Homo sapiens: one gene and its partners. The protein of the gene in region 1 purifies or fractionates together with the protein of each later gene. This does not show direct contact. Each region holds a gene or a part of one and is shown in the gene's direction. Other genes may lie near its edges.

Evidence for each region. The genes of interacting proteins can lie anywhere in the genome.
Region 2: the proteins of RABL2B (region 1) and RASEF purify together in Homo sapiens (affinity purification with mass spectrometry; 3 studies listed by BioGRID and IntAct, with this or other methods). This does not show direct contact.
Region 3: the proteins of RABL2B (region 1) and IDI2 purify together in Homo sapiens (affinity purification with mass spectrometry; 3 studies listed by BioGRID and IntAct, with this or other methods). This does not show direct contact.

The regions. Positions count from the first base shown.
Region 1 is NC_000022.11:50,780,090-50,788,508, reverse strand, and holds the start of RABL2B (rab-like protein 2B), read left to right. Parts: upstream 1-4,872; 5' UTR 4,873-5,008; exon of another isoform or gene 5,009-5,118; intron 5,119-5,214; exon of another isoform or gene 5,215-6,161; 5' UTR 6,162-6,214; coding exon 6,215-6,321; intron 6,322-8,419. UniProt on the Homo sapiens protein: Small GTPase required for ciliation. Activated in a guanine nucleotide exchange factor (GEF)-independent manner via its intrinsic GDP for GTP nucleotide exchange ability.
Region 2 is NC_000009.12:83,053,143-83,060,806, reverse strand, and holds part of RASEF (ras and EF-hand domain-containing protein), read left to right. Parts: intron 1-7,664.
Region 3 is NC_000010.11:1,022,860-1,030,447, reverse strand, and holds the start of IDI2 (isopentenyl-diphosphate delta-isomerase 2), read left to right. Parts: upstream 1-4,588; 5' UTR 4,589-4,632; intron 4,633-5,703; 5' UTR 5,704-5,724; coding exon 5,725-5,866; intron 5,867-7,588. UniProt on the Homo sapiens protein: Catalyzes the 1,3-allylic rearrangement of the homoallylic substrate isopentenyl (IPP) to its highly electrophilic allylic isomer, dimethylallyl diphosphate (DMAPP).

The DNA.
Region 1 (8,419 bases):
CTTCACAGCGTGGGAGAGGGGAAGATGAAGGATGGAAAGGCCAGGCATAAAAGGATTTCAGAATTTCCGTCCATAAGGAAGTGGCTTTGCGCACTGTCTGTTACTGCGTGCAAGGTGAAATTTGAAGAATGAAAACGTGCAGTAACAAGGGCTCCTTTGTCCAACTCACCTCTCCAGATACCAAGTTTCAGACATGTTGCATTTTAATTGAAAGGTTGATATAATTTTTTTTAAAGAACACTTGCGGTGTTTGAAGTGACAAAGGCTGCTGTGACCAAAAAGCAGGGAAAGGGAATTTTTTTTTAAAAAAGCAAACAACAACAACAAAAACCCCACAGAAAAGCAAACAACAAACAAACAAAAAACAGAGGAAGAAGTCAAACACCCTGGGCTGTGACTACTTCCAGGAAGGGGCTACAAGAGGCAGTTGGAAATTCTATTTGCTTTGCAACTGTGGGTTTTCTGGCCTGCTTCCTTTCTAAAGTATATTACTCTGCTTTTGGTTCATGAAGTTATCCATTTCTGTTTTCTGGAACAGCTATGTATTTTCTTTATCTATCATCTATCTATCTGTTTACCATCTATCTTTTCTGCCTTTCGCTATCAAGAGCTTGGGTCAAGCAGGATAGAATTCCAGTGTATGTTCACTCTACCATTTAAAACAAGAGCTCTTGTAGGCATTCTCCATCACATCATAAACCTGAGCTTTCTAAAACAGAGTGTGGCAAACTACCATGCATGGACCATGTCTGACACAGTCTGCGTTTGTAAGTAAAGTTGTAATGGGACACAGCCAATACATGTGTTACATAATGTCTCTGGCTACTTTCATGGTATAATGGAAGAGCTGAGTCATTGAGAGAGAGACCATATGGCTTGGAAAACTTGAAATATTTAACATTTAGCCCCTTGCAGAAAATATTTGCTGACTCTTGTTTTAAAAGATCTCTGTTTAGAATGCTACCTATTGCCTTCTGGATAGAATCACAACTCTTTACCACAATCGACACAGCTTCAGCCCTGCTTCTATATCCAGCCTCATCTATTTCTGCTCCTCCTCCTTATTTTCCTTCTGGACATGCTGATGGATTGTCAGCTTCCCAGATGTGCGAGAATCTCTCCTCCCTTCCCAACATTCTCACAATCTCCCTCTGCCTCTCAAGAACTTCCTGTCCCATCTCTCATGACAAATCCTTTCTTCATTCTTTAAGATGCAGCCCCTTGGCTCTTTCCTTAAGGATGTCTGTCTGGCTCTATTTTGGGTGACGTGCTCCTTCTGCATCTCCCAGAGCCAGCCGGTGTGTGTCAGCTACAACATTTCTTTGCATCTCTGTGTCATATATCACCAAATCTGCCTAAGCTTGCATGAGTCACCGCATGACAACTTCAGACTCCACCAGCATTGTCCCCACTAACCACAAGGCTTAGACATTCGTCCAGTATGCTCGGGGTTGTGGGGTGGTAGCAGTAACCAGCTGGTGACCATCATTTCTTACATCAGAATCAAATCTGTAGATCTCTGCCATTCATAAGTATTTGGAGTTTAAAATTAGCATAAAGATTTTCCTTAAAATAAGAACAAATGGCTTGAGTAGGCTTTTGGAACGTAGGATGTTTCCACTGGTTCATGTCTGTGTTCAGTATTCCCACATGAATCTAAACACGACTCTGCTCTTAGTAGCTGTGTGACCCTGGGACAGTCACTCAGTCTCCCTCAGCTAAATTTTGTTGTGTGAGTAATGAGGAGAGAGTTGTGATTTGTATTTAGTGAATAATAACAAACAAAAGGCATTTAGCTTTCTGGAACCTGGTATGTAGTAGAACCTCATGAAAATACTAGCTCTGTTGATAAAACTAGACTGAAAAAAGCTTTCAAAGTCAACAACAGTATGAGGCAGTGAAGGACGTAGAGGAGAAGCTGCTGCTGCAGCCTGTAGCTCCTGCAAGCCCGTTTTGTCCATGATTTAGCAGGAACGCATTACCTTTCCATGAGGACACTGCCCACAGAAACCAAGGCCATTCTTTGAAGACAAACATGTCTTAATAGCCTTTACATTATGTAATAGTGTAATACAAATAATAATTTATTATTAGTAATAATGTGAAATTATTTACAGTACCATAACCCTAACCATAACCCCTAATCCTAACCCTAACCCTAACCCTAACCCCTAACCCCTAACCCTAACCAACCCCTAACCCCAACCCCTAACCCTAAACCCTAACCCTAAACCCTAACCCTAACCCCTGACCTTGACCCTAACCCTAACCCCTAACCATGACTCTGACCCTGACCCTAACCCTGACCCTACCCTAACCCTAACCCCTAACCCTCACCCCCCACCCTCACCATCACCCTAACCCAACCCTAACCCAACGACTGTAAGCCGTTTACAGGAAACTCAAGCCAAAACACTACTTGTTTCCAACGTTTTGTTTGCAGAGGATTTACAAATTACACTCCAAAACAAGATAGCCACAGAGCATACTACTTCTCCTCTGAAGTCGCTCTGAGGGCCTCCGCATCAGTCCTAGAATTGGAAGATTGGTGGACAAGAACTGGGATGTTGATGGGGCACTGAATATTTGCTGGACACCAACCTCCTGTTACCTAACCTTACAGAGGGCCCAGATCTCACCTGCCCAAATCAGACATTTTAACACACACACCTCTCAACAGCAGGACTTACAGACACAAAACTCTGAGGTAAAGGATTGTCTCAACTCCCTGGTGTCTCAACGAACTAAAACACTGCCTAGCGCAGGTGCACCATCAACCTTATTCACTAAATACACCTCTGTATATATTCTTCATCTTTGATTGTGGAAATGATATAATCAACATAAAAATGTTTTATAGATTGGACTAAAGACCTTTGAGGTCTCTTCACAGGATCCTATCTGGCGGACCCCCAAATCTGCCAACACAGAGGTCATCCGTAAACACGTGCAGGACAGAGGCCAGACAAAACCATCTCTCTCAGCCTCAAAGTGGCCTGGCAGTCACATGTGGGGTCTGGCCTGTATGAGGAAGTCAGGCTTTCGGCTCCAGGCACCCTACTGCACCGCAAAACCAAGTTCTGCCTAAGAAACAAAAAACAGCCTGCTCACTCTCCCTAATATCCCAGGTGGTAACCTAAGAGCATTATCTGCTAGACACCCCTCCTCCTCCACCCTCCATGTCCAAGCTATCACCAAGGTCCTAGCAATCTTACCTCCTAAATGTCTCCCAAATCCACTTCTCTCCCTTCACTGTCCAGGCCACCAGCATGACTTCTGCATGTGTGTAGCAGCCTCCGCGCAGGACGTAAAGATGCAAATCTAGTCGTAGGCTCTCTGAAAGGAAAATTTTGGGGACCCAAAATTACTAAGCTAAAGGAAAAGTCAAGCTGGGAACTGCTCAGGGCAAACCTGCCTCCCTTTCTATTCCAAGTCACCTATCTCCTCACTAAGATAGGTGCATATCTGATTCCCTGCTTTGGAGAGGCTAATCAGAAACTCAAAACAATGCAACCTTTGTCTCTCACCTACCTGTGACCTTGGAAGCCCCCTCCCTGCTTCCAGTTGTCCCCAGCTTTCTGGATGGAAGCAACGTACTTCTTACATATATTGATTGATGTCTCATGTCTCCCTAAAACCAAGCTGTGCCCTGACCACCTTGGGCACATGTCGTCAAGACCTCCTGAGGCTGTGTCACGGGTGCACCTCTTTCTAAATTACCTGAAACCATCTCAGATAGGGTTCACACATCCCTTTCCCAAACCCTCCCAGGAGCCCCTCGTGGGCGCCCAGGTCCTGCGTGCTGTTGTGGCCCAGGCTCACCTGGAGCAACTCGACTCTTCGTTACAGCCTCGTGAACCTTTCAGTTCCTAAAGCTGTCTAGCCTGTGAAAGGAAAATGAATCTGGGGGCCCCAAAATCACTAAGCTAAAGGGAAAAAAGCTGGGAACTGCTTAGGGCAAACCTGCCTCCCCATCTATTCAAAGTCACCCCTCTGCTCACTGAGATAGGTTAATATGTGATAGCCTCCTTTGCGGAGGCTATTCAGAAACCCGAAAGAATACAACAGTTTGTCTCTCACCTACCTGTGACCTGGAAGCCCCCTCCCTGCTTCGAGTTGTCCCGCCTTTCCCGAGGGAACCAACGTTCATCTTACATATATTGATGTCTCCTGTCTCCCTAACATGTATAAAAGCAAGCTGTGTCCCGGCCACCTTTGGCACATGTCAAGACCTCCTGAGGCTGTGTCACGGGCGTGCGTCCTCAACCTTGGCAAAATAAACTTTCTAAATTGACTGAGACCGTCTCACATATTCGAGGTTCACAAGCCCATGCATGGGGACGTCCCCTGGGGTAGCGCCCCTCCTCCACTGAGCTCACTCGCTTCCCCCTTGTGTGTTTTCTTCAGAAGAAATTTCGCAGCTACTTGGTCCACACCTGTCTGCCCCACAGGAACCTCTCTTCTCCACAGGCACATGGGCGGCGTACCTGCTGGGCTGTGTGGAGAGGACCGGGTTCCTCTCCTGATTCCTGCTCAGTTAATAACGAATGTCGACAAGTCGAGAAAATTGCTCAAATTTACCCCATCAAAGAATTAAAAACTGGTGAAAGCTTGACCTGCGCCCCCCACCCCTGACGTGCTCACCGCTCCACTCCCTCTAGGCGGGCGGCACCCGCTGAAGCCTCGGTACCACACCCACAGCCAGGAGCCCCAGTCCCGCACTCGGCCGCATGCGCACTCCCTGCGGCCCTCCCGCCAGGCGCCGCGCTGGGCAGCCAGCGCCCCGGCGGGGTCCTTCAGGCCTTCGGCCGGGCAGCCTCCCTCGGGGTCCTTGTGCGGTTGCGTAGCAGCTGCGAGGACGCGGGCCGAGCCGGAAGTGGAGTGCGCTGCGGCGCGAGCTGGGCCGGCGGGCGTGGTTCGAGAGCGCGCAGAGTCCAGACTGGCGGCAGGGCCCGAGGGGCCGACCCGCAGCGTCCCTGGTCTCTCCAGCCCTCACTCGGAACCGCACGTGAGGGCAAATCCGCCCCGGTGGCTGGCTTAGCACGCGGGGACAGCCCCTCCGAGGCCTCCCTAGCGGTGTGGGCGAGAGGGCGTCCGGGTCGGGGGAAGCACGGAAAGGTGGCTTCGCGAGGCTGTTGTGGGGGGCGGGACGGGCAGCCTGGCGATGCCTGGACATGGTTGGTGGCCAAAAACATTTATCGAAAGATAGCTTACCCACTTAGATGGCAAGGACACGGACAAGCAAGTCTTCGCCCGTAAGCGGTGGCTCACGCCTATAGTCCAGGGATGCCGAGGAGGGAGGATCGCTTGAGTCCAGGAGTTGGAGGCTGCAGTGAGCCGTGATCGCGCCACCGCACTCCAGCCTGGGCGACAGAGTGAGACCCTATCTCTAAACAAAAGAAAGAACGTCTTCAAGCATGGAGCCATGAAGCTGGATTTGGCTTTCTGTCGCTCTCTCTACAGGGTACAGGTGAAAGGGGGCAGACCCCTCATCATGCTTTCCAGGCATCTGCCACTTCCCAGGAATTGTCTCCCTGGATAAACAAGGCGAAGTCCCTGGCTGTGCAGAAGCAGTAGCTGTGTGGTGGCACAGTCAGGAAAACTCGGGGGCCCTGTTGGTATTTTCTACCCCTGACCCGTGTGCATACTTCTGTCGTAGCTCTCACCACAGTAGACTCTGCTATCATTGTGTCTTCCATCCTCTGAACCCTGTGCAAGGTCTGCTCATGGTGAATGCCCAGTAAGGCTCACCTATTGCTGCTGTCTCATCATCATATCATTTCTATGTGCCCCCCTAGCTAAGAGTCTGGACTGTGGTTACATTCTCAGGAATGTTTGCAAAGTCATATTTAGGTGTGAGGAGAGTAAAACAGAGCTAGACATAATGTTGCACACAGCCTTTGGCACTGGATGCCTGGTGAATGTCTTGTGCAAATGGGTAACGTGAGGAGCAGCATTTGGGGTGCGCAGGACTTAACTATTTGTGTATAACATATTATTGATGCCTGTGTGTCATACTCTGCTACTCCAAGTCTAGTAGTCAATTGCATACCATATCTCAGTCTGGCACTGAGGGAAGCAGTCTGGAGGGAGGTACAGCTGGAGATTTGGTTGAGGGGACTTATCTCTGACAACAGCCTCTTGTTGATCTTCCCAGACAGTGACAATACCCTCCCCTCCCTTGGGCTGGACCCCTCTCTACAGCTAGGAGCCAATGGCAGAAGACAAAACCAAACCGAGTGAGTTGGACCAAGGGAAGTATGATGCTGATGACAACGTGAAGATCATCTGCCTGGGAGACAGCGCAGTGGGCAAATCCAAGTATGTTGGGAGATTAGGGAATAAATACCAGCCCCAGAGAGGGTCCAGGTCATTTAAAAAGTCCTCCAGAGGCAGAGGAGCATGGCTTCTTGGGGCTGGTGAAGGAGCAGTCTTGGCTGGAGCCCAGATGTTCATGGGGGAACGAGGGGAATCACGTGAGCCGTTGTGTGTGTCAGGTGGAGGGGGCAGGTCATAAGGACTGAGGAATTTGAATGTTTCCTCTGAGCCCTGAGAGAACGTGTGGAGCAACTGAGGACATTGTATGTGGTTTGTGGGCTGAGGGATGGCAAGGGCGGGGAGTGGGAATGGAAAGACAAAAGTGACTATGCCACCGTGACAGATTGGGTAAAGGTGGTAAAGATGCTTTCTTGGAGGGACTCTCTGAAATAGAGAAAACTGGGTAGAACTGACGATTGACTATAATCATTGTGAAGACTGGCTTCTTCTTGTAATGAATTTCGGTGCCTACGTGCCACCCGGAGAGGTGAAGGGAGGCTCTGCCGTGCTGCCAGCTTGTCTCCATGAGACGTCCTAGTTCTCACGCCTAGGACTGCTGAGGGCACATGTCCATTTCTGCCTTCATAGCATGACGGTACACTTGCCCCTGCCCAGAGAAGTGGTCACGTTTATCTCCCAAGTACTCCAGGCCCACCTTGGTTTCTACCTTCATTTTTATAATCAAGTCCTTTGACTCAGGTAGCTGTGAATAATTCTCTGGGGGCTTTGCTGGTTTTTAGGCCATCTCCATGAATTTGAATTCTCTGTCTCTCTCTCTCTCTCTCTCTCTTCCCCACCACACAATCACATACTGCAGCTCTGGTTTAGTTTTTTTTTTTTTTTTTTTGAGACGGAGTCTCGCTCTGTCCCCCAGGCTGGAGTGCAGTGACGTGATCTCGGCTCACTGCAAGCTCCGCCTCCCGGGTTCACGCCATTCTCCTGCCACAGCCTTGCGAGTAGCTAGGACTACAGGCGCCTGCCACCACACCCAGCTAATTTTATTTTTGTATTTTTAGTAGAGACGGGGCTTCACCTTATTAGCCAGGATGGTCTTGATCTCCGGACCTTGTGATCCGCCCACCTCAGCCTCCGAAAGTGCTGGGATTATAGGCATGAGCCACCGCGCCCGGCCTCTGGTTTAGTATTTTATAGTTACTTTGACCATCCTCAACAGCACGCCTGTACAGTAAAAGTGAGGGTAGGTGTTGTAGTTTGGGAAGGTTACCCAATAAATAACACCCCCTTTATCCCCACTCAAGTTTAAAAACAACAAAGAATAGAAATGGCAGGCAGGTGTAAAGCAAATTGCCACTTTAATAACAAACAGAACTTTCGGAGAATGTATCTTGGTATACCCAGCTCCCAAGTTCAATGCTAGTCTCTTTATATGCCTCATTTCAAACAGTAACAAAAAATAAGAATCCAAGTAGTTAACTTGACGTCAAAGATTACCATAACATTGGCCTCCACAGACACAACAATTAGAAAACAAGGCAGTCTTCATCCACTAGCAGTATCTCAGGCAAAAGGTTGTCCCAGATACAAAGACCATGGTGGAAACAGTGCATCTGAGGGAAGGTGAGTGCATGAGAACACTGTGGTTCAGTTTTGACTGGACTCAAGAATTACTGCCAATTTTCAGTGTCTCTAACCTATGAATCTAAACTCAGTTGGGCTAAAACACCCATTAAGAGGTTAACACATCCAGGCTGTGGTGAGCTATGATTGCGCCACTGCACTCTAGCCTAGTGACAGAGCAAGACCCTGTCTCAAAAAAAAAAAAAAAAAAAAAAGTTAACACTTGTGTTCATCATATCTGAAGGGCGTCAGTTGTACACGGCCTCATTTCTAGAGAGCAATGTTGTGGCAGTGCGGCCTTCTTGCAGAGTTCAGAAATTTACAACAGTAGCAGCCCCAGTCACCAGGCTTTCTTTAAGGTGCCTTTTTTTTTTTTTCTCATGCAGCATGTTCATGCTTCTTGATTCCACTCAGGGCTCTGTTGGAGGGCTCTGATGACAGCTCCCCTACCCCCTGTGAACAGGTGACCTCAGACCTGGGCACTGCCTCCTGTGGAAGGCTTTTCCTTTGCTCCTGCACATGC
Region 2 (7,664 bases), on another chromosome or scaffold:
CACCTCCTGATGTGAGATTAACAAGTACAATATTTGTCTTCCTCTCATGTTCAAGTGGAAGAGATCTAAACTGAGTTGCTGCATCAGATTGTTACCATGGCAGCCATCCGCTGTTTTGGTAAATTGGATTAATTCTACTTCACTTCCTCATACAGCTGTTGACCTTTTCTTCCTTCCATCCAAATGTGATTTAAACACTTTTTTGTTATTGATAATGCTGTCGGCATTATTTCAGCCAAATGTATTCCATAAGCATTACCAATTGCCTGCCATATGCCAAATACTGGCTTAGGTACTGTCCTAGGTTGCTGGGGACAAAGAGAAGGATAGTATGTAGTTCATGCCCTCAAGATGCTCATGGTGTGGATGAAACATTTTTCCAGCAACTTCATCGAAGAACATTTAAAGGCAAAGAACATTTGTAGGAAACTCCCTGTATTGTGGACATAGCCCAACAGACGGCTGCAAGCAAGAATTTTCTTTGAAGTCTTGAGCTTTTCTTTAAAAAGTGATTAAGTTGTTCATCTTTGTACACAATATTTTGGGACTTGTTTTCATATAAAATAGAGTTTCTTCTGAAGGGAGAATTGTCTTTCTAGGAAGGTGTGCCATTCCAACTTGTGGCTTTGTTTCCCACCTGGCACTCAATCTTATCCCTGGGGACAGTCTGCCCCAGGGCTATCCTGGGGAGTGTTCACATCCAGTTTGAGAGGAACGGATATTAAATAGGAAAATGTTTGGTTCCTATAAAGGCAAAGCATGACACTGTTGATTTTCATTTAAAGAATCTTTCAAGCAAAATATTAAGCAATTTTGGGTTAAACTCGCCAGTCATCAGTAATCGTGATGTTAGAGGGAAGATAATATTGCATCATGAAGGGATGAAAGTAGCTTTTGGGATATGTGTCATTGTTGAGTTCATTTTCTCTTAGAAAATTGAGGGACTTTTTGTTTTGAAGGCTGAGGAAGGAGTGTCCAAGGAGTTGTGTGACCGGGTAAGCTGAGCCTGGCAGATATGAAGGGTCTGCAAGGTCAGGATGGGCCTTGACCACTTCCTGGTCAGTTTGATAAGGTCAGCCAACAGGTGAAGGCAGCAGGACAGTGTGATTTAGTTACATAAGAGAATTTGGGAGGACAGGTGCTACCAGGCCAAGAAAAGTCCTGGAAGTAGGAAGAAAATGTGTGGGTGTTGAGGGTGGAGGGGCAGGGCAGAGAGCCAACTTATAATGTAGCCTTGCCAGTTTCTGATGCCTGGGTCATTGTCTTGGTGAAAGGGAGTTTCATACTCAGGAGATACTCAGTAAATGTTTGCCAAATGAATAGAATAAATCAGTATTCTTTGATTCTTGTTTCATATATCTGCATTTTGAGAGAGAGTGTAGTTCATGCTGTGAGCATTTTCTCCACTTCTTTTGCAGGTTCTCTCACTTTTTTTTTTTTTTTTCAGTTACTGTTGTGAGCCAGTCTTGGTGTTCAAAGATTGCCAAGAGAAGGAAATAGGCTGTGTGTGTGTGTGTGTGTGTGTGTGTGTGTGTGTATTGAGCATTTGATGGATGGCTGAGAGCAGGGATGAAGGCCTCTTCTCTGACCTCTAGTCAGAGCTGAAACTTTTCAGTTTTTTCTCAACTCCCATTTGCAGCAATTTTGAGTGTTATCTGTGAATTGATTCATGCTGATAAATTAACTTAGAAAACCCCACATTCTCACAAACAGGAATGTGAGGGTGCAGCTGGCACTGGAACCACTGAGGGTCTGTGAGTGGGCACAGGTATCCCAAAAGTATCCAAAGGAGGGACAGCCTCAGGTCAGGTACCTGAGGGTGTGGCAGGTATAGTGATGGGTGACCTGCCAGGCAGTGCTAGGCTAGGATTTGTTGAGACGTCAAAATCAGCACCGTTAGCTGTTTCACATGGTTTGCGATGTTTCTACATGCACGATGTCGAAGGGGATTCTTTTATTTGGTAATTTAAAAACAAATTTAATTGAGAGGAACCAAAACTTTCCATATGTGAATTGTATAGAGATTGGCAAAACGGCTTACCTTATTAAACTCAAGAGGAAAGGCTCACCCATTGGACAGCAATCCCATTTAATTGGGAAATTTTTAAAAACAAGTAGCTGCCAGTAGGCAGAGGCGAAGTTTCAGTATTGGTGAGGGTTGCTTCTCCATTTCCCTTTCTTGGGTTCTAGTTTAGCCCTTTTCAGAATGATTGCCTTGTTTTGTAATAGTGTAGTTGCTTCACAGCTCCCTTAATTTACATGAAACGGTGCTTGACAAGATAGAAAAGGGAGAGGAGAGACAGAGGCAAAGAAAGACATAAATACGGCCGGGCGCGGTGGCTCACGCCTGTAATCCCAGCACTTTGGGAGGCCGAGGCGGGCGGATCACGAGGTCAGGAGATGGAGACCATCCTGGCTAACACGGTGAAACCCCGTCTCTACTAAAAATACAAAAAATTAGCCGGGCGTGGTAGCGGGCACCTGTAGTCCCAGCTACTCGGGAGGCTGAGGCAGGAGAATGGTGTGAACCCGGGAGGCGGAGCTTGCAGTGAGCCGAGATCGCGCCACTGCACTCCAGCCTGGGCGACAGAGCGAGACTCCTTCTCAAAAAAAAAAAAAAAAAAAAAAAAAAAAGACATAAATACATCAGGAGTGAGCCGGAGAGCAAGAGAGAAGGCCAGAGATAGAGTGGCAGAGGGGGACATGTTGAGAGGGAGTGAAACACAGAGCTCAGATGGAGGGGAAAGGAAGAGAGACTGATGGATTCCATCTTGCCTCAGTTTCTCCTCTTTCCACTTAGTAGAAAGGTGGCCCTGAGTCACCTTGAGATGAGAGAGGTAAATCAGCTCTTTTCTCTTTGATCTCAGCTCTTGAGTATCTTCCACATGTGAGCATCTTGGTGCTTTGGGATGTGTTTGTGGTATTTAAAGACGAATATATATATATATATATATATATATGTATATATGAATATATGTATATATGAATATGTATATATGGATATATATATGTATGTATTTTTTCATGCTCATGGCCAGTAATGTCTGGTTCTCATCCAAGAAGAGAAGATGTGTTCTAGCTTTGCAACATGGTGGTGGGCTACACCCAAGTCCTAGATGAGGTTCAAGGGTGCTTTTGACTGTATTGGGTATTTACCTTGAGTACCAGATTTGGGATCTATCATTGTGCTTGGCATAGGTTTTATGGAAGTTTCTTTACCTTTTCTGGATTCTGAACCGGGATCCTAACATCTGTGTCTCTGTTTATGTCTGTATCTGTATCTCCTTGTTTTCTAACTGTTGCTATTCTGTAGCTTTTTGCTTTTTCTCTTTAATGTGTCCTCTGTCACAATTATGTGTATCATTACTCTGCTGAGTGGGAGAAACCTGTCTCTTGATAACTACAGCTCATTATTGGTGTATACAAATGCTACTGATTTTTCTACATTGATTTTTGTATCCTGAGAATTAACTGAATTCGTTTATCAAAGCTTAGGAGTCTTTTATAGGAGTCTTTAGGGTTTTCTAGATATAAGATTATATTGTCAGCCAACAGAGATAATTTGACTTCCTGTTTTCCAATTTGGATGGGTTTATTTCTTTCTCTTGCCTGATTGCTCTGGCTAGGACTTCCAGTACTATATTGAGAAGGAGTGGTGAGAGCGGGCATCCTTGCCTTGCTCCAGATTGTAGGGGGAATGAACCTTTGATCCTTCCTCCTGGGCCTTTTGTGAATCTGTGCATGCCTTAGGTTTTATGAGCTCTACTTGCTGGGTGGTGGCCACTTCTGGTTCTGATATTTGAATTTAATCTCAAGGTAGTAATTTCTTTTTGGCTTTCAGATTTTGGAAAGGTATTTTGGACTTCTAGTCCTTAGAAGGCTCTCAGTGTTAGCCATCTGAGCAGTGGCCTGCTGTGACCCTCAGAATTCACTGATTGCTCAGAGCTTTGCTCTCAGAATTTGAAGAAAGATGATTTATTCTGTCCTTCTGGTTTGTGCAAAAAGAAAAAGGCTTAAAAAGAAAAAGTCTTAAAACTTAGTGTTACCAGGGAGACTGTACTCCCAGAACTACAGACTCTTCTCTAGCTTTTCCTCAAACCTGAACTTGTGATTTATTCTTCTCCAAAACTACTGTTAAATTCAGTTACACTACCCCTATCTCTTTAAGCGTGTACAAATCTTCATCTGTTTCTTATTTTCTGCCCAGGTTATCCAATCTTTTTTCATTTGTACAATGAAAGTAGCCGTATCATATGGGGAAAGGTTAGTGTGCCATGGTGATTCCAAGTGTGTTTTGAATCCTTTTTCTCTCCTAAGAGGGTATACACAGTATGCCTTCTTGCTTCATGTATCACTTATTACAATTTAGGTAGCACTTGAGTGCAGTATGTAGTCAGAAGAGGGAAATGGGAAGAGAATATTTATTCTGAGTGTTCAGGGCTGCCTCACCTGACTGTATTAGTCTCATATGAGGTTGTAAAATGGAAAGTAAACACTTGTCTGTCTCCCAGAGGGAAGTTCTAATGGTGGAATTTATCTATGACACATAGGATTTCTTTAGAATTATTTTGTCAAACAAACAAGTTCATTGCTTCAACTTGTAAATATTCAGGGTCTTCCAAACGATAACTGCTTTTGTCAGAGTAATTATAAGAAGAGTGAATTTTAACCCTTAAGGCCTTAGTCTATATGTCTTATAAAAACAGGATATACAGCTCCAGTAGTGCAAATGTTTCTTTGATTCTTTCTCTAGTTCACCCAATATTGACATTGCCCTTGACATCTCACTAGGCACTATATATATACACCTGACCCTGACCTTGTTTCTCACCTTCTTAAATACTCAGGAGTTTCTAACACCTGAAGGACCTGGGATGTGGAATAATGAATGGGAAAATTCCTCCTGGCTCACCAAAACACCACTCATTCTGGACTATGGATGTTTCACATCGAATGTTTCTCAAATTGGGAGCCATAGACCCTTCGGGGTCCTTACATATATCTTTGGGAGTTTTAGGAGACCAAATATTCTTATTTTCATTTTGGCAATAATGTAAAATAAATTGATGTGAGCTCATTCCAAATCACCTGCATTACAGATTTGGATGACTTTTGTATTACAGATTTGGCTACACAATTTCAAAACCTGCATTTGTGTTCGTGAGGCATCTCATAACACTGTGTGCATTGTCATGGGCTAAAAAGGAAGGCAGAGAAACACTTTGGACAATCGAGGAGGGAGGAGCCAAGATGGCCGAATAGGAACAGCTCCGGTCTACAGCTCCCAGCGTGAGCGACGCAGAAGACGGGTGATTTCTGCATTTCCATCTGAGGTACCGGGTTCATCTCACTACGGAGTGCGAGACAGTGGGCGCAGGCCAGTGTGTGCGCGCACCGTGCGCGAGCCGAAGCAGGGCGAGGCATTGCCTCACCTGGGAAGCGCAAGGGGTCAGGGAGTTCCCTTTCCGAGTCAAAGAAAGGGGTGACGGACGCACCTGGAAAATCGGGTCACTCCCACCCGAATATTGCGCTTTTCAGACCGGCTTAAGAAACGGCGCACCACAAGACTATATCCCACACCTGGCTCAGAGGGTCCTACGCCCACGGAATCTCGCTGATTGCTAGCACAGCAGTCTGAGATCAAACTGCAAGGCGGCAACGAGGCTGGGGGAGGGGCGCCCGCCATTGCCCAGGCTTGCTTAGGTAAACAAAGCAGCCTGGAAGCTCGAACTGGGTGGAGCCCACCACAGCTCAAGGAGGCCTGCCTGCCTCTGTAGGCTCCACCTCTGGGGGCAGGGCACAGACAAACAAAAAGACAGCAGTAACCTCTGCAGACTTAAGTGTCCCTGTCTGACAGCTTTGAAGAGAGCAGTGGTTCTCCCAGCACGCAGATGGAGATCTGAGAACGGGCAGACTGCCTCCTCAAGTGGGTCCCTGACCCCTGACCCCCAAGCAGCCTAACTGGGAGGCACCCCCCAACAGGGGCACACTGACACCTCACACGGCAGGGTATTCCAACAGACCTGCAGCTGAGGGTCCTGTCTGTTAGAAGGAAAACTAACAACCAGAAAGGACATCTACACCGAAAACCCATCTGTACATCACCATCATCAAAGACCAAAAGTAGATAAAACCACAAAGATGGGGAAAAAACAGAACAGAAAAACTGGAAACTCTAAAAAGCAGAGCACCTCTCCTCCTCCAAAGGAACGCAGTTCCTCACCAGCAACAGAACAAAGCTGGATGGAAAATGATTTTGACGAGCTGAGAGAAGAAGGCTTCAGACGATCAAATTACTCTGAGCTACGGGAGGACATTCAAACCAAAGGCAAAGAAGTTGAAAACTTTGAAAAAAATTTAGAAGAATGTATAACTAGAATAACCAATACAGAGAAGTGCTTAAAGGAGCTGATGGAGCTGAAAACCAAGGCTCGAGAACTACGTGAAGAATGCAGAAGCCTCAGGAGCCGATGCGATCAACTGGAAGAAAGGGTATCAGCAATGGAAGATGAAATGAATGAAATGAAGCGAGAAGGGAAGTTTAGAGAAAAAAGAATAAAAAGAAATGAGCAAAGCCTCCAAGAAATATGGGACTATGTGAAAAGACCAAATCTACGTCTGATTGGTGTACCTGAAAGTGATGTGGAGAATGGAACCAAGTTGGAAAACACTCTGCAGGATATTATCCAGGAGAACTTCCCCAATCTAGCAAGGCAGGCCAACGTTCAGATTCAGGAAATACAGAGAACGCCACAAAGATACTCCTCGAGAAGAGCAACTCCAAGACACATAATTGTCAGATTCACCAAAGTTGAAATGAAGGAAAAAATGTTAAGGGCAGCCAGAGAGAAAGGTCGGGTTACCCTCAAAGGGAAGCCCATCAGACTAACAGCGGATCTCTCGGCAGAAACCCTACAAGCCAGAAGAGAGTGGGGGCCAATATTCAACATTCTTAAAGAAAAGAATTTTCAACCCAGAATTTCATATCCAGCCAAACTAAGCTTCATAAGTGAAGGAGAAATAAAATACTTTATAGACGAGCAAATGCTGAGAGATTTTGTCACCACCAGGCCTGCCCTAAAAGAGCTCCTGAAGGAAGTGCTAAACATGGAAAGGATCAACCGGTACCAGCCGCTGCAAAATCATGCCAAAATGTAAAGACCATCGAGACTAGGAAGAAACTGCATCAACTAATGAGCAAAATCACCAGCTAACATCATAATGACAGGATCAAATTCACACATAACAATATTAACTTTAAATATAAATGGACTAAATTCTGCAATTAAAAGACACAGACTGGCAAATTGGATAAAGAGTCAGGACCCATCAGTGTGCTGTATTCAGGAAACCCATCTCACGTGCAGAGACACACATAGGCTCAAAATAAAAGGATGGAGGAAGATCTACCAAGCAAATGGAAAACAAAAAAAGGCAGGGGTTGCAATCCTAGTCTCTGATAAAACAGACTTTAAACCAACAAAGATCAAAAGATACAAAGAAGGCCATTACATAATGGTAAAGGGATCAATTCAACAAGAGGAGCTAACTATCCTAAATATTTATGCACCCAATACAGGGGCACCCAGATTCATAAAGCAAGTCCTGAGTGACCTACAAAGAGACTTAGACTCCCACACATTAATAATGGGAGACTTTAACAC
Region 3 (7,588 bases), on another chromosome or scaffold:
ATTAGTTTGATCTTTTCAATTGAATGAGGCAGTAAGCCACTAGGTACAGTGATACTAGCTTTGGTAATGTGCAGCTGTAGAGGGTTTGTACAAGGTTATTAAATTACATTCAAAATTTTGGTCTAGAATATCTTTTAGTTTTGGTGACCTAGGTCCATTATGTGCCTTAGGAATATACAAATATATGTAATCCAGGCTGGAGTACAGTGGCTCAATCCCAGCTCACTGCAGCCTTGACCTCTGAGGCTCAGGCGATTCTCCCATCTCAGCCTCCAGAGTAGCTGGGACTACAGGTGCACACCACCATGCCTGGCTAAGTTTTTGTATTTTTTGTAGAGATGGCTCTTGCCATTGTTGTCCAGGCTGGATGCCTGGGCCCAAGTAATCCACCCGCCTCAGCCTCCCAAAGTGCTAGGATTACAGGCGTGAGCCGCTGCGCCGGACACTGCCTTAAGAGTATACGAATGTATTTTTGATGCAAATGGAACTTTTCATTCAGGTGTAAATAAACTTGAGCTAAGTAAATGGTTAATAATAGGAGTTGATTTACATGCTTGCATTTATCTATTTTTTTCATTTACATACAACTCCTTGTGGGAAAGTGCACTAAAGATGCTGAGTACAAAAACTTTGTATTTATTTGCAGGATATATCTGAATATTTTTAATTAATTAAATAACCGAAGTTCCAAATTATAAACCTACAATCATGGACAGACATGGGAGCTTAAAGATTGCGTGGCTTGGCCAAATATTGGAGGAGGTCCAGGCGCAGTGGCTCACGCCTGTAATCCTAACATTTTGGGAGGCCAAGGCAGGCGGATTGCCTGAGCTCAGGAGTTTGAGACCAGCCTGGGCAAAGTGGTGAAACCCCATCTCTACTAAAATACAAAAAAAAAATTAACCAGGGGTGGCAGCGTGCACCTGTAGTCCCAGCTACTCGAGAGGCTGAGGCAGGAGAATTGCTTGAACCCAGGAGGCGGATGTTGCAGTGAGCCGAGATCATGCCATTGCACTCCAGCCTGGAGACAGAGGGAGACTCCGTCTCAAAATACGTATATATTAGAGGAGGCGAATTGTATGGATTTAGTAGCAAACTGCAGATTCATTTAGGAGGGCTGCTGTCATCAGCCTTAAGACATCAATTACATATGTGTCATTTTACTTATTATTGAACACTTCTGAGTACTTGTTCTAGAAGCTCTCCCAAATTAATTATCTCTTCCAAATTTTCCCAGTAATACCAAGGGCCTCATCTTTTCTGATCATTGCTAAAGTGTTAATTCTTTCTTGATTTATATAGATAAAAATAACCCTATTATGGAAAGTTATTTTTATTTTCCTCACTGCCAAAATTTTATTCATCACCGTTTTCCAACATATGGATTTGAGTATAATCTCTTAAGATATTTACAGAAATTTTAACCTATGTTATCAAATATCAGGAAGTGCTTATCTTAGAAGCTTGTTCTTTGGAATTTTGTTGACAGGAGTTGAAAATTTGAACAGCTCAACAATTGTACTTAACAATTTAGGTTAAGTTACTTGATAGTTTTAAACGTGAGAAAAGGAACGAGAAATATTAGAGAAAGGAACTGGATATAGTGAGCATGAAGGAAGTTTTCTAAGAGTGTTCCTGCAAAGGAGTAGCTTGCTGGGCAAATGAGGTCTAAAAAACTAGCTGTTACTTAAATGAAATCATAGTCACATGCTTGCAGACTGATAGGAGAATTCCAACAGAGAGAGAGAAAACGTGATGATAGAGAAGAAAAAGGGAAAATTGCTGGACGATGTCTTTGAGTAGGTGACTGTGGGTGAATCTGCTGCAGAAGAAGTTATTTTTTGTTTTTTGTTTGTTTTTGAGACAGAGTCTCGCTCTGTTGCCCAGGCTGGAGTGCAATGGAGCGATCTCTGCTCACGGCAAGCTCGGCCTCCCGAGTTCACACCATTCTCCTGCTTCAGCCTCCTGAGTAGCTGGGACTACAGGCGCCCACCACCACACCCGGCTAATTTTTTTGTATTTTTAGTAGAGACGGGGTTTCACCGTGTTAGCCAGGATGGTCTCGATCTCCTCACCTCGTGATCCACCTGCCTTGGCCTCCCAAAGTGCTGGGACTACAGGCATAAGCCACCGCACCCGGCCCTTTTTTCTATTTTTAGTAAAGATGGGGTTTCACCATGTTGACCAGGCTCATCTCAAACTCCTGACCTCAGGTGATCCACCCGCCTCAGCCTCCCAAAGTGCTGGGATTACAGGCATGAGCCACCACACCTGACCCAAGAAGTGACTTTTGGTAAGTACATGGATCACCCATCATTCTAGGTGGAAAGCAGAGGATTAGGGTTGTACAATGCCTAGGAGATGGAGTGATGGTGTTGGGAGTGGCTGTTCTCTTCTGCATGCAGCAGTTTTCTCAGAGATCTGAGAAGTTTACCCCAGTGTCGACGATAATGTGTCAGTATTTCTGGAACATGGCAAGCCCTTTCCATCTGTGGGTTTAAGTCATCTTGTGTGTCTGGGATATTTTTCTTTATTATTATGGCTCTCTTGTTCAAGGATACCCCTTTTAGCACATGCTGTATTTGTTTTACCCTCTCTTTCATACCTACAATACTTGGCCTACTCCTTTTTAACTCTTTCCACTTCCATTTCTTTTTACCTGCTTTTCCCAGTCTTGGCCTCCATGTCCTTCTCTATATTTCACTGATATCTAGAGCCCTTTCTGTTGCTTCTAATTTGCCTTAATCAGATGTAATCATCTATTCCTAGAGTTTATTCTTAACCTCCTACCTGCAGCATTATAGGTCATCAACTGTCATTCTTAAAGTTGTCATAACCTCTCTTAAGAAAATTCTCCGCATATAGCCTAATCAAAATGTCTTCCTTCCTTTCCTTTATAATGTTTTTTGTGTGCTTTATGTGTCAGAACCTTGTACCCAGATCAACCTAGCAAAGGGTTTCCCTCCTTTTTTATCCCCTAGAACATTTTACAGAGAATGACAATTCCTTCCTTGAAATTTTGATAACATTTGCCTCTAAAGCTTTCAGTGCTTAGTTTGGTGGTGACGATCCCAACATGTTAAACTGCACAGATTCTGGGGGCTCAGCTGCATCTGCAGCCACATTGCCTTGGGCAGGTAATTTACCTCTCTGTGCTTCAGTTCCTTATCGATGCTGTGATAATAAAAAATAACGCTTATCTCAGAAAGCTGTCGTGAGGACCAAATGAATTAATATACATTAAACTCTTAAAATAGAAACTGGCACAAAGGAAGGACACAATGTGTGTCTGGCTGTCTTACTATTATTATTATTACTATTAGAGTTGTTGGATTATAATAGGTACGGTATTGTATATTAGTTTCTTCCTCAAAGCCTAATTCATAGACTTATTTATTATTTTTTAGATCTTTAAAAGAGTATCATTCTCCCATTCTTACTCTTCTGACTGCAAAAGAAACAAGTTTCAAACAGACCATTTATTCCTGAGTCTCAGAACTGATTTCCAGGGAAAACATTTCAGGCATAGCCTTTTGATTTTCTACGTAACTAAAAATTACATGCATAAAGGTGAACTTATGGAAAGACAAAAGAGCAAAACACATTAATCTTTTTATAGAATATTACCCATCACTGCTGCTGTGTTATTTTTGTTCTGTATTATCCGTGCCAAAGTCAGCGGAGTCATGCGTCCATCGTGCTTCTCTCCTCATATTCCCTGAGAGAACCGACAGATATGGCAAACATTTTTTTGATATTTTAAGAGACCCTACTTGCAAAACTATTTGGCCTAGAGCTTTAGTTGGTAGATGATATTTGGAATATGATAGGCAAGAAATTATACAGTTTTTTAGCTCTTCCAAACACATTGGTTTCCAAGGTCTTGCATTTATTTATCGATTTTCAGCTATCCTAAGAATTTATTCAGTAATTTTAGTCACAATGTTTATTATTTTTCTCTTCCATTTGCCACCTTTATTTTTTCTTTTTAAAATCTGGGATGATATATACAGCAAGTGAATTAAAAAGATGCCATCGAACGGCGCCGTGGCTCACACCTGTAATCCCAGCACTTTGGGAGGCCGAGGCGGGCGGATCACCTGAGGTCAGGAGATGGAGACCAGCCTGGCCAACATGGTGAAACCTCGTCTCTACTAAAAATACAAAAAAATTAGCTGGGCGTGATGGCGGGCGCCTGTAATCTCAGCTACTCGGGATGCTGAGGCAGGAGAATCGCCCGAACCCGGGAGGCAGAGGTTGCAGTCAGCCGAGATCACGCCACTGCACTCTGGCCTGGGCAACAGAGCTAGACATCACCTTAAAAAAAAAAAAAAAAAGAAAGCCATAGAGTAGAAAATAACTTACCCTAGGTTTAAAAACTAAAAGCATTTTTTAAAGTGAGATTGTGTCAAAACAATTTTCTATTATCCCTCAATTGAGAGGGAGAAAGATAGAGAGAAAGAGATGGAGAGATAGAGAGAGACCGGGGTGTGTTTTCTTGTTAAGAATACAAAAATATCAGATTGCCTTAGCTGATATCTTTCTACATCCCCAGGGTATAAAAGGGCCCTGGTTCAACTTGCACATTGAGTTCCACATCTGATACCCAGGAGTCTCCAGCTTCCAAGAGAGGTTAGTGCATATGTTTTACCTTGTGGGAATTCTTTCTTTTATGATCTAAATTTGTACATATTCAGTAATTGTTTTCTCTGCATTTCTATTGTATCTCATGTCCATGCATTAAGTCAAACAGCCTTTTGCAAAGAGGAGGAGCAGATTGCTGAAAATATTAACAGTAATGATAATGGACAGACGTGAATGCATTTTTTTAAAAAGTAGAAAAGGATGATGAGAAGGTTTTACATGAAGATAAATGACCCTGAAAACATTTTTTTTTTTTTTTTTTGAGACAGAGTCTCACTCTGTCTGCCCAGGCTGGAGAGCAATGGCACGATCTCGGCTCACTGCAACCTCTGCTTCCCAGGTTCAAGTGATTCTCCTGCCTCAGCCTCCTGAGTAGCTGGGAATACAGGCATGTGCCACCAGGCCTGGCTAATTTTTGTATTTTTTAGTAGAGAGAGGGTTCCACCATGTTGGCCAGGCTGGTCTCAAACTCTTGACCTCAAGTGATCCTCCCACCTCGGCCTCCCAAAGTACTGGGATTACAGACGTGAGCCACCGCTCCTGGCCCTGAAAACATTTTGTGAGAAGATCTTCACCTAAGAATCTGCTTGGCTCTGAAGAGGACCATAGCCCTTCTGTGGGTGACGTAGCTTTCCTACAAGGCTGTGTGTTTCTCCACGTCTGATCCAGGTCCAGTGGTTTTGCACAGGGCTGCACTTTTCCCCAAAAACTTGTACAAAGAGTGTTACCTACAGTTTACCTCGGTGTGTTTTGTGTGTGTGTGTGTGTGTGTGTGTGTGTGTGTGTGTGTGTGGTGGGGCGGGGATTCTTTAACTCGTCACTAAAGGAAACCTGGAAAACATGAGGAGTATGTATGTACCCAAGATTTCCCGTTCAGAGAGACACCACATTAGAAACAGATGATTCACCTTCCATATCTCAGAACTGTGCTGCTTCAACACAATTGCTGTCACTTGTAGAGAAGGTGTATGCTAAATCCTAATGTGGTTGGTAACACATAGCAAAAACGAGATGGCAATATCTTTCACATAAAGAGGCATTTGTGTGCATCTATTTCAGGTCGGGTCACAGCCAGCAGCTATGTCTGACATAAATCTTGACTGGGTTGACAGGCGTCAGTTGCAGCGCTTGGAGGAAATGCTGATTGTTGTGGATGAGAATGATAAGGTTATTGGTGCCGACACCAAGAGGAATTGCCATCTGAACGAAAACATTGAGAAAGGTAGCCCCCGCCCATTTTCTCTGTCCAGTTCCCAGGGTTTTCCCATTTTTCCCACCCGACGGCAACCTAAGAAGAGAGTCTAGGCCTTTCCGGCTAGGAGGCGACCACTGGGTCACCTGTGTGCTTGCTGTGCCGTCTTTAGAAGGCTCGGGGAGCAGCACCTGGATGACGTCTTTGCTTGGTCAAGCCCTTGTCAGGCTCCTGCACCTTCTCCTAGGCATCCGTGCTCTTCCTCGTAAGATCCTGTTTCAGCAAGAATTCTACCAGGTTGTTTTAGCGAGAACCCTGACCTTGGCATCTGATTAAATTCCTCAACCCCGTCCCTCCCAGGTGACGTCTGATCACGCAGGCCTGTCTTCAGCAGGTCTTGTTAGGTCGGTGTAGCCAGAACCCCCTTCCCACTGATGTTTTCTCTTAGTAACTTTTAATCCATAGGCCCCAGCCTGCTCCTTGGGTGTTGTGTGCAGTTAGGCTGGTTCTCCATGGAGGTCTCTTTCCCCTATTGAAATGGTTCTCAGTAAAGTCAGACTTTCCTGCTTTAACTCCTGTCCAGCTCTGGTTTTCTTTGACCATCTTAAGCCATTTTATTATTTTTTAATTTTCATTTTTGTGTCTTTTTTATAAACACATAATAATTATGCATATTAATGGGGTACATGTGATAGTTTGATACCACCATGTCATGCATAATGATCAAATAGGGCATTTTGGGATATCCATCACCTCAAACATTCATCATATCTTTGTGTTGGGAACATTCCAAATCCTCTGTTCTAGCCACATTGAAACATATAATACACTGTTGTTAACTACAGTCACCCTACTGTGCTATTGAACAGCTGATATTATTCCTTCTCTATCGCGGTATGTTTATACTTATTAACCACCCTCTCGTCATCCCTCCCCACTGCCCTTCGCAGCCTCTGGTGTCTAGCATTGTGTTTTCTGCCTCCATGAGATCAACTTCTTTAGAGCCCACATAGCAGTGAGAACATGTGATACTTGTTTTTCTGTGCCAGGTTTGTTCCACTTAACACAATGGCCTCCAGTTCCATCCATGTTGCTACAAATGACAGGATTTCATTCTTCTTTTTTTTTTTTTTTTTGAGACAGAGTCTTGCTCCATTGCCCAGGCTGGAGTGCAGTGGTGCAATCTCAGGTCACTGCCAGCTCTGCCTCCTGGGTTCATGCCATTCTCCTGCCTCAGCCTCCCGAGTAGCTTGGACTACAGGCACCTGCCACCACGCCCAGCTAATTTTTTTGTATTTTTAGTAGAGACGGGGTTTCACCATGTTAGCCAGGGTGGTCTCGATCTTCTGACCTCGTGATCCGCCCACTTCAGCCTCCCAAAGTGCTGAGATTACAGGCGTGAGCCACCGCACCCGGCCCGATTTCATTCTTCTTTTGTGGTGGAATGGTATGCCACTGTGTATCTAACCCTCATGTTTTCAACCCTTCAAACCTCCACGGACACAGGTTGATCTCATATCTTGGCTGTCGTAAATGGTGCTCAGCACCCAGGAATGCTGCGATATCTCTCTGATAGACTGATCTCTTTTATTTTGGATATTTGCCCTGGTAGTGGGATTTCTGGGTCATCTGGTAGATCTATTTTTAGTTTCCCGAGTGTTCTAATCCGCTGAGATTCTGAAACGTTGTGTTTGGGCATCCAGCAGTCCCCTTTGCCCTGCCCAGGTGCCACAATCACAGGCTTTTCTACGA